Linked DNA regions of Homo sapiens: region 2 is linked to region 1. Evidence: fine-mapped expression QTL. A gene starts in region 1. The other region holds a variant in brackets. All regions are shown on one strand. Distances are from middle to middle.

Region 1 (5,529 bases):
CCTTTGTACTTAGCACCCAATCCATTTAACAAGTCTTATTGTCCTTAACACCAACATATAATTGGAAGTAAACCACTTCTAGCCACCTCCACCAAAGCATCGTGGTAGACACCACTAGGATGTCTGGCTTGTTTATTGCAATATATCGTTTATTAGACTCTCTTCTACCTTGACCTCCACATGGTAGCCAGAGCGATCCTGTCAAAAAGTAAGTCAGATTGCCTCATTCCTCTCCTTAAAGCCCTGTTTCATGCAGACAGGAAGCCAAAGTCCTTACAATGACCTAGAAAACTCTCCTTGATCTGTCACCTCTGCACCCATTGCCATATCCTACTACTTACCAGCCAAATACTCCAGTCCCCAGAGCCTTGCACTTAATGTCCTCTTGTTTAAAATGCTCTCCCTATGCCTCCCTCATCAACTTCCCCTTTGTGTCCAACATCATCTTTGCAGTGGCACCTTCTCTGCATACTCACTTTAAAATTGCAAGCCTCTATCTGACTAGTGACCCTTCCCTCTCCTGTTTCTTCTTCACAACAGTATTACCACCCGATATCCTATATAAATTTTTTATTTGTTGTTATGGCCATTCTCCTTTCAGAAGAATCTAAGTTTCGTGGGGTCAAAGAATTACGTGTTGGAGGGTGTGTATGTGTGTTATATGTTTTCACTGCATTCTCCCCAGCACCTAGAACAGTGCCTGGTACAGAGTACACAATCAAATATCTGTTGCTGTTCAGTGAAGGTCCAGAACTGTTATTTATTTCACCTCAAAACCAGGCTCTTCTCCCAGTCTTCCCCATGTCAGTAAATGGCAACTCTAGTCCAGTTTGCCCAAGCCAGGAACCTGGAAATTACTCTTGATTCCTCTCTTTTTCTCACACCTCTCATCTTCAAATACTGCCAACGCTCTCTGCAAATACACAGGCCCCCTTCCAAAATCTGGCCCTCCCACCTTCTCCACTGCTCTCACCCAAGTCCGAGCCATGATGTGCTCTCACTTAGGTTAGCACAGTGGCCTCATTTATTGGTCTCTCTGCTTCTACTCTTGCTCCCTAGGAGTCTATCTTCCACAGAGAAAAGAGAGAAATCTCTTCAGAATTCGTGTCGAATCATAGACATTCCTCAGTTCAAAACACTCTGATAGGTAGGTTTTCACCTTGGAATAAAATCTAAGTCGTGTGCATGGCCTGTAAGACATGTCCTGATCTTGTCCCAGACATACCTTCTGAAACTTATTTCTTCCCTTTGCTCATTCTCTTCCAGCCACTCTATTTCCCTTCCTGTTCCTTGGCTCTGCCAAGCACTCATGTGTTGTGGGACCTTTCCATGGCTTCATCTGCATGGAAGGTAGAGGCACACAGTACCTGCTATGTCCCATCATTCGGGCCTCCGCTCCAAGTTGCTTTATCAGAGGGCTGCCCTGATCATCTTTCCTAAAATAGCACACACACCACACACACACACATGCACGTGTACACACACACCTCATTCTCCTTACCTTATTTTGAAGCCCTCATTGCCAACTGACATTATACGTTTACTTATTTTTCTTTGACAATTTCCCTGCTTCTCCAAAATGTAGACTCCATGGGGGCAAAGAACCATCTGTTTTGTTCACTATTGTAGCTTCAACACCAAAGATAAACCCCAACAACTACAGGGATGCTTAATCCTAGCGCCTAGGCTCTTAGGGATACATAAATACTTTCTTTCTCAAAGAAACAATATTAGTATTTGAAAAAGGAATGTGGACATTCTTTAGTGTTGCGCCCACCCCTAAAACATAGTCTGCCTCGGAGCAATGGAGAAATCTGATTGGCCCCTGTGGGTCCCATGCCCCCTTGTGGCTCTGTCGTGGGAATGGGGCTGGGGGCAAAGTCCATGCAATCCATAGAAGATAGAGGAAGGAAAGTTCCGCCCACCGCCCACCCAAAAAAGGTCTGTTAGCAGAATTTAGGATGGGGATGGGGAAAAGGAGGAGGATGTGGGGGAGGCAGAAACAACAGATGGCAACTATGGGGATTTTTCCAGAGTGGGAAGTGTAACCCAGGGATAAGCTGGGGTCCCTGGTAAAGGAAGTATCCCTAAATAACTGGACCTTCATACTCTTTGGGAAAGAACAAGCTGAGGCCCCAGGCACACCTGCATGGCATCACCATAGCCTTGCTTCTTGAATGACTCCTGCTGGCATCAGGAGGCATCTCCCTGGCAGGAACAAGCCTGAGGCTTCACCACGGAAGCTGGAGGAAACGCAGGGACCCATGGCACAAACTGACACAGGAGTTCTATGTTTCATTGCACATCATTTTGTTCACCAGTGCATTTGTACGATTCTGCCTCTATGGCTATCAAGTTTAATTAACAACTCATTTTTAGGTAAGAGTAAAAATGAATTAGGTAAAAAAAAATAAGCAACAGCTGCCAAGTGAGCATGGAGCACATACACTCACAGATGGAAAAAATCTACATCTTGCTGCTATGATTTAGCTCAGGGTTTTATATTTAATTTTTGTTTTGTTTTGCTTTTGTTTTTATACACCTCACCACAAGGTATTTTAAATTCTTTAAATGTATTCCCGAATATAGAAAATGTTTCTTGGGCTCTCCTGAGAGTGGGGTGCCCAGGCTGACCACAGGCACACACACATTCTTCCCATAGTACAGTACTTTAAAATTAATAGCACATGCAGAGGAAAAACTAAACCCTTTGACGTCACTCTTGAAATGAGGAAACATAAACAGAAAAGGCTCCACTCCAGTAAGCTGCCAGAGTTGAAGCCGATTGGTCTCTGCTTTTCCTTGCCTGTGGCAACTGACAGCACCTCCCAGCCTAGCAGGCCGGCGGCTGCTCACCCAGCCAGTCAGTTGGTCTGGGCACTGCAGCAGGCTCGGCTCTGTCCCAGCACTTGTCTGGGAGAAAAGTGGTGTTACTCACCCAGGGAGAGTCTCTCTTTCTACCTTCCTTCTTTCTCGATCTCCTTGTGTGCTTTTGTGTTTCTTTATTTCTTTTCCTTTTTTTTCTTTTTTTTTTTTTGTTACTTAATTATATTCCTAATCCTGGATGAAGTTGCTGGATTCTGCAGCACAAGTCTTCATGAACAAGCAGCACCGCTCAGAGATTTCACGGCATTCAAAGGTCACAGAACTGCCACTATGGTTAAATGTCTTGTTTAATGGTTGAGGTATGTACAACAAATTTAAGCGGCAAGCTCAGTTTTCTTGAGAGAATAGAGTCACAGAGAGATGGCAGGATTTTTATTTAAAATGAACCTGTACATATATATGTTTTTTGTCTGTGATTGTTACTACAGCAACCAGCTTTTGAATTTCCTTCCTTTTTCTAGGCGAACTGACTAAACATTATCACTTACCCTGAATTAACCGTTTAAGGGCAGCAGGGTTTCATTCCAACCAGTGTAATGAGACTCCGGCATTTTCACTGCACTTTGAGCCCACACTGAGGTGGTCTTTAAAAAAAAAAATAAAGAATGCAATATTTTTTTTCTCCAACATAAATCTTGGAGTTGGGTAATTTTCATTTTTGGTGGGACAGGATAGGAAAATGCTGGTAAAGGGATTGGTAAGGTTTGTGGAACAGGGAAGAAGGAAATTAGTTTTTTTCTTGAGTTTTTCATGTTGGTTGATAGCAGACTTCAAGATGAAGAAATTAGTGGCAAGAAGGGAAGAAGCTGATAGTGAGACTGAAGGTAGAAAAAAATCAATAGAAGATGTCCAAAAAATGAGCTCTGAAGAAAAATCCTTCATCACCTTGTTGCATTTTTCAAAAAATGTTTTGGATTCAGAAGTCCAGGAGAGATGCAAGTACTAAGTTACATGACCAGAAATTTAGATATTATTATTTATAAAGGAAAGTAAAACTTCTTTATTACCACTGCAAATTTGCTAATTATCTTTTCCTACAATAGTTGAAAATGGAGTCAGATATTCAATTAGGGGCTTAAGTGATTGAGCCTGGGGACTAATTAATCATTTAAAAATTCTGTTCTTCATGTGCTCTAGCCAGAGTGACTATTGCAATAAGAGTAAACCTCTTTGCACCAGAGACAGGCATAGGCATTCATATACAGTAAACACACTAAATGCTGCAGGAAGATTGGCAATTCAATACAGGGCTAATGTTGTTTTCAGTGGCACATTATTATGTCTTAAGGAGGATCCCTGCTAAAAATCATTCCTATCCAAAGAGTCGGTTTTTGTAACAGCAATTTAAGTAATATATGGTTACCATGGATTTCCCTATTACCCTTCTCAAAGTTATGCAATAGCAAATAAGACAGGATTATTTGAAATCCTTACCCTGTTCCAAAATTTCTAACCGATTTTCTTAAAGTTTCTATTCTCAACATTGAGAACCTGAAAGCTTTAAAACTGGGTCATGTTAGCAGTAATATTAAGCACGATTTCAAACATGAGGTGTATTTCAAAGGGTTAAAAAAATTAACTGCATAAGACTGGAATGTACTAAGTTAAGAACTGCAAAAATATTAGCTCTGAAATGCAGAGGATGTGCCGTGAATGGACAATTGCTTTTCTGCAGCGCCTAGTGGGAAAACAAGGACTTTGTGTGTTGCAAACGCATAACTGCAGCTCCTCCATTTCCTCTGCTTTATCTTTTATTACTGGCTGGTGAAACAAAGACAGGTGTCAGTAGTTACGTCTTGATTGACATTTTCTCCAATAAAATGAAGTCACTTTTGTCTCAAGTAGAAGCCCACAGTTAACTAGTTGCAACTCCAAAAACTGTCTCTGCCTTGTAAGAATTTTTACCTGACACTGTAAGCTGTCTAATTTCAGAATGTACTCACTCTCTTGAACAACATGTGACAAAATCAGTGGTGACTATATGTCAGCAAATTAGCTGGGAGAATTTTTTTTTTTAATTAAGTTATTTAGGGCAAGGGTGGAAAAGTCTAAGATGTGTCAGGGACAGGCATTAATTTAGGGAAAATAATTACACGAGTGCATCATTTAATGCCTTACACAGGGTTCAGCACAAAGCTACTCACTGTCAGTTCTCCATAAAAACCTAGTTAAAATGTTTGCCTAGAATTTACTACCTTTCATATATTGTAAATTATTTAAATAATTTTGGTCTTTTCATGTGTTTTTGAAAAGCACTTTTGGTGTCAGTCCAGCCTGAAATATTATCTAAAAATCAAGTCAATGATACAGAGAAGGACATTTCAAACACTGACACTTTATTTTCAGCCTAAGGACATCTTAAATGCAAAAGTAAAATGACCAAGTTTCCTCAAAGTGGGAATGTACCACCTGGAAAATGCCTCAGCCTAGTAATTATTCGTCTGAAGTCTAACTTGTTGTTAGCCAGGCCCAAATCACAGGAGGAAGCTGTTTGTTGACTCACAGAAGATAGTGTTGGAAGGAATTTATTAAGTGGTAAGCTAATCCCAAAGAATACTAAAAGGGCTTTGTTTATATTAAAGAGAAGTGTCAAATTTAAGGATCAGAACAGACTTTGAAACATCTAAATGTAGAAGCTAAGAG
Region 2 (5,000 bases), 190 kb after region 1:
GCTTATCTGCCTAGTGACTGGAGCACCCATAGTCTACAAGATTTTTACATAGCCCTCAGAACACCAAAAATTCTTCAACATAATCCAGGTTCTAAATCAACTATATATTTGACACTTTTCTTGGTTGTATACTTTAGTATCGGGGTTATCAATTCTTTTATAGCTCCAACCACAAAGCAAAGTCTTTTTATTTTTAGTTTTTGGAAGAAGGAGCCAATGCAATGGCTAGTTTTTATTAAAAAGAAGAAACTTTTTAGCACATTTTGAGTAACTTAGTGCAGGGGCTCAGTGGGCCCACTGGTGGGGCAGCTTGTAATAGTTTCCAGTCAGGGCATCACCGGGGCTCACCTTTGTCCAGCCAAAACCAGATGATGGCACTATTCTCTTCACAGATGCTGCCCACTGCTGGTGAAGGAGGGGGGCTAAATTAAGGTCCTCTTTGGTACCTGAAGCTGCCTTTGGGGGTAGTATATTATATGGGTCCAGTCCCTTCCGTGCAGCCATCATGATATCCCTCTCCAACCCAGTCACCTGCTCATTGTCAGTAAGAACATCACCTCCAGATGCATTGGAGTGCACTTCAACCACCCCTCAGGGACCCTGGGCCCTCAGGGCCCGCACAGCCGGCACCCCAGCTCCTCAAAGTAACCTCGAAGCCATGAAGCCATCACACCCTCAACAAGTAACAGTACTTCCAGGAACAGCAAAGTCTTTTTGATACAAGTAGGTGTCCATTGTCCATTGGAACAAGCTGTTTTGACTTTGTTAGTTCTCATTATTTTGGGTTGATTCACAATGCCTGAAAAAGAACTTGGTTATTTTGAAAATCTATCTTAAAATGTCCTGTCTGCAACCCATTAATTACTGATATTAACATGTGTAAGAATCCTCACAAGTTACCTAGATGGGTCTTCTCTGTTCCATGATTCCTTTGATCACATAACAACCCCACCCTTTCCCCACCCTCAGTGATCCAAACTTCTGGCTGCAGATACCATATCAAGATGAATGATGTCCACTGAGTAGTGAAAATTATAGGTTTACAGGCATGTTCTTCTAAAGTAACTATCTGAAAAACAAAAGAGATCCCAGCCTATGAGATGTTAGCTACGAAATGTAACAAAACCACCTTTCAGATAATTCACATGGTAGAGAGGTTTTAGTCCAGCAAGTACTAGCCTCGCATCAGTTTGTCCCAATCTCTTGAACCTGCAGTTGAGCCAAAAATTTCCGAGCCAAGCTTTCTCGCAAGATTTCCTGTACTTCCTGTTTCTATGTGAGCCAGAAATACCATGAGAATGACCTTTCTTGTGGTATTTTTGCCCTTATACTCCAGGATGAAAATAATCCCATATTGGGGGAACTTTTTTTAAATTGTGCAAATATTTCCAGGTTTCAAACCTTCAAATGAAGTAGGTTCCTCCTTGGGAATGAAAATGTGAAATGGTGATGGCTTGGCCCTGACTCATCTCCACTAGGAAGTATTCGTGCTCAGTGATCCAACATTTTGTAATTTCTCTAAGATATTTTTACAAGGAACTAGATAAAATAGTACAGAGGATACAATGGAAATGTATATCCTTGGATTTTTTTTAAAAAGTCATTCTTGAAGAAATGAACAATGAAGTGTTGTGTTCTTAGTACATTAGTGTATGTGATATATGATATCACATATTTGTTTTCTTTGTTCTTAACCCCTTTGTTCCAAGGGTCAGGATATCCTGATGCTAAGTACTATTGCAAAATAACTGAACAAAAATAAAAATAGTCAAACACTTAGGAAACTCTTCAGTTGTTATGTCAAGGAAGTTTGTGACTGAGGAGTGAGTTTAAGACATTATTCAGGAAATATGATAATAAAGCAAACAGTCTACATGTGATTATTAAATAAAATCATCTCAATCCTAGAGAGTCTTGATGCCCCCAGCCTGATGGAAGGGTAAGATAAGGACTGGACGGGCTGTCAAAGTGGTGGAAGTGTTGAACTGATGGTGAAATCCTTTCATCTCTTATCAGAGAGGGAAAAAGGAAGGGCACATCTTTCTAATCAAGTAGACCGCTGATTATTCCCTAATTGTGTTGTATGTATATCTGGTTGTTATAGAAAGAGCTGCTAGATCAATATTTTCATAACAAAATTCACCAAAAGCAGTGTCTTCAATGTCTTTATTATTGTTTTATACCCTCTTGCCCCTTCTTCACCTGTTAGGAAGGAGAGTAGGTTTGCCAGTATGCTTTTCCATCCAGAAAAAAGAAAATTCACTTAATCCAGTATGGAAAACTAAACTTATTAACCATGGATTTAGAGAAATAATAAAACAACAATAAAATTACAGTTGTCTTTGCTGGTTTCAACTTTAAAAAGAAATGAGGTGGGAGTAATGAAAATAAAACACACTCTACAACGATCTTTCTCCTCTTCCCCAAGTTTCCTCCTCTCTCCCATGAAGAAATATCAAATAATTGTGTGATAAACCAGCCTTGAAAGGAATGTAGAGCAGAAGCAACAGATTATACACCAGCAAAATGGCATGCCAAGCAAAATAAAGCACTTTGCAATGTGGAGACGTGAAGAGAGGAAGATGGGATTGTTACAATGTTCTCCAAGAAAACAGGGGCTATTCACTTGAATGTGCAAGTTCAAATTGTTCCTACAAACCCAATTTGCTGGCAAAAGTGCCAAATACAA[A/T]ACTACCCTACTTTCGTTTCTGTCCAAGGCCTTTCACATAAGCTACAGGGGGCATCGCCTTTTGTTGAATTGGTTCTTACTTTCAGGGTTAGCGCCTCCATCTCTGAGACTAGGAACAAGAGGCATGGCCCACAGTTGATGTTGCCCTCGATTCAACCACTCTCAGGTCGGGGACACAGTAGTCAGTGGCCCACATAATAAATCAACAGTGCTCTCCCTCCAGAAGGTGAATTGTTAACATTCTTTTCTTTCTTTCATTGCCATTTATGTCCCCTGTGAACATCCTTTAAAATGCTTGTTCCTTTGAAAATGGGTTTTGAATGAGCCTGAGCCACATATCCAGGCTATGCAGGCCACTGCCCATACGCATGAGGATCTTGATGCTTCCCGAATTCGCATCTTTCGGAGTTAACTGTGGAATGTGATTCAATGTTATTTCCCTTCCAGCTGAAGGGCAGCTGAGGTTATGAAGGGATTTGACTAATAGGTCATAACCCAGATAGGTTTGCCGAGAACCAAATGACACAAGGGGGAGGGATGTGGAGAAGGAGCGAGAGTGATCAAACTGAGGCACTGAGGATCAACCAAGCCCATCCCAGCACTGGTCTTGGTGACTGGGCAAGGTGCCCCCCAACCCCCATCAGGCCCTCCAGAGAGAAGCAGCTGCAGATTGGCTCTGCAGACTCTCAGCTTCCTCTGTTTTTTTGAGAACTCCTTGGGGCTTGCAGGCCTGAGCCTGTACCACAGGGGTGACTCCTCACCTGACACCTCCAGATAACTGGCCTCCAGCAAGGGGGGAGCCCCTCTGTGAGGTTAGCAAAGGGGAAGCCCCGCTTCTTTGCCTGAAGTCCTTAAGAGCTAAGCCGACAAAGAGCTAAGAGTCAACAAACTTTGACAAGCACCAAAAGAGAATTGAGAACAAATAAATCAGAAGAAAGAAGAGGAAAAGCAAATGCTAGAACCTCGATGGCTTTTTTTTTTCTCCCTGCTGTCGTTCCAGCTGTAGCCTGGGATTAATTAAGTGCTGTGAACTCAGTGCCAGAGAGAGGAGGGGAAAAAAAATGCATTCTATCTCTAAGGAAGGAGTACAGTAACAGTTTCTCACCAGAGAGAAACCTAGGGAAGTGAATCGCTCTCGTCGGCAGTGTTTGTGGAGGGCCTGAAGAGACAGGGAGGTTGTGCCAGGCTGGAGGAGGCTTGTCTTTCCGAAGCTGGAGAGGATCTTACGGGGGTTCGCTTTTCCCTGCCTGGGAAGAATTTCCCCTGTGGTAGCAGCAGCAGCAGCAGCAGAAGCAGAAACAGCAGCAGCAGCAACAGCAGCAGCAGCAGCAGCACCACCACCACCACTACCTCCTCTTCTGGGGCACAAGACAGAATGCCTGTGCTAGAGCGATATTTCCACCCAGCAGAGCTAGGCAGGAGGTGGACAGGCCCAGAAGGTGTGCTGCCCTCCTCCCCGGGAAGCCGGCCGGGGTGCCAGCAGGGGCCGCTGCCCTGGGACTTGCCAGAGATGATCAGGATGGTAAAGCTGGTTTGGAAATCCAAAAGTGAGCTGCAGGCGACCAAACAGAGAGGCATTCTGGACAATGAAGATGCTCTCCGCAGCTTTCCAGGTAAATTGACCATGGGGTGTAATAGGTCACAGGACCAAGTCTGATAACTAACTCCCTTTCTTTGTAGAGTCCAAGCCATAGGGAGGAAAATGAACTGTGTAGCATCAGGTCTGAGGGCTGTGACTTCCAAATGTCTGCTGTATGATAGAAATGCATCTTGAAATTAAGAGTGATTTAGTAGGAGGAGCATTTGACTGGAAATCAAGAAACCTGGGTCCTGGACTCAGCTTGACAAATGCTTGCCCTTTGGGCTTGCACAAGCCAAATTTCCTGAGTTTCAGTCCCCACCAAGGAGGGGGTGGAATTGGATGCTCTTTAATGGCCATCCTGACTCTAACATTTCTTGTCAACAAGTTAGAGATATCCCTAGGAGAATATTCTCCTTGGGTGGCTTTTTATCATTCTTTCTATAAAGTAAAATACATTTTCCAATTTTTAACTATGCCATTTACAGCATGTATTATGTTCCCAGCACTGAGTTTGGCATGCAAGCTTTTTATGTCCTGGGCAAGTTGGTAAACTTTCTTGACTTGGTTTCCCCTTTGGCAAATGTCAGCAATATAAACACCTTTATTGATATCAACTCACTCACAAATGTGGAAATAATGATTCCCAGGGACTTTGTCTTGTCATAAGAATGTGCTGTGTTTGGGACGGTTGTGGAGAACTTCACTGTGTTTCTGACAGTGGATACAACC

What was found.
Region 2: its variant is fine-mapped to the expression of PDE7B in testis (GTEx, PIP above 0.99).

What each region holds. Positions count from the first base shown.
Region 1 is chr6:135,848,835-135,854,363 of GRCh38, forward strand. PDE7B (phosphodiesterase 7B) reads left to right here and starts at 2,867. Exons shown (of 13, transcript NM_018945.4): 1 at 2,867-3,185. The coding sequence starts at 3,165. LOC101928373 (a long non-coding RNA gene) reads right to left here. Exons shown (of 3, transcript NR_187609.1): 3 at 5,202-5,529. RefSeq lists a silencer at 2,654-2,891.
Region 2 is chr6:136,034,227-136,039,226 of GRCh38, forward strand. All of the region lies in intron 2 of PDE7B (phosphodiesterase 7B), which reads left to right. It also overlaps the pseudogene COX5BP2. Among named protein-coding and RNA genes, the nearest start is that of PDE7B-AS1, 36 kb to the right of the region's middle. RefSeq lists enhancers at 3,578-4,078, 4,079-4,579. The variant A/T (reference allele first, on the strand shown) is at 2,690.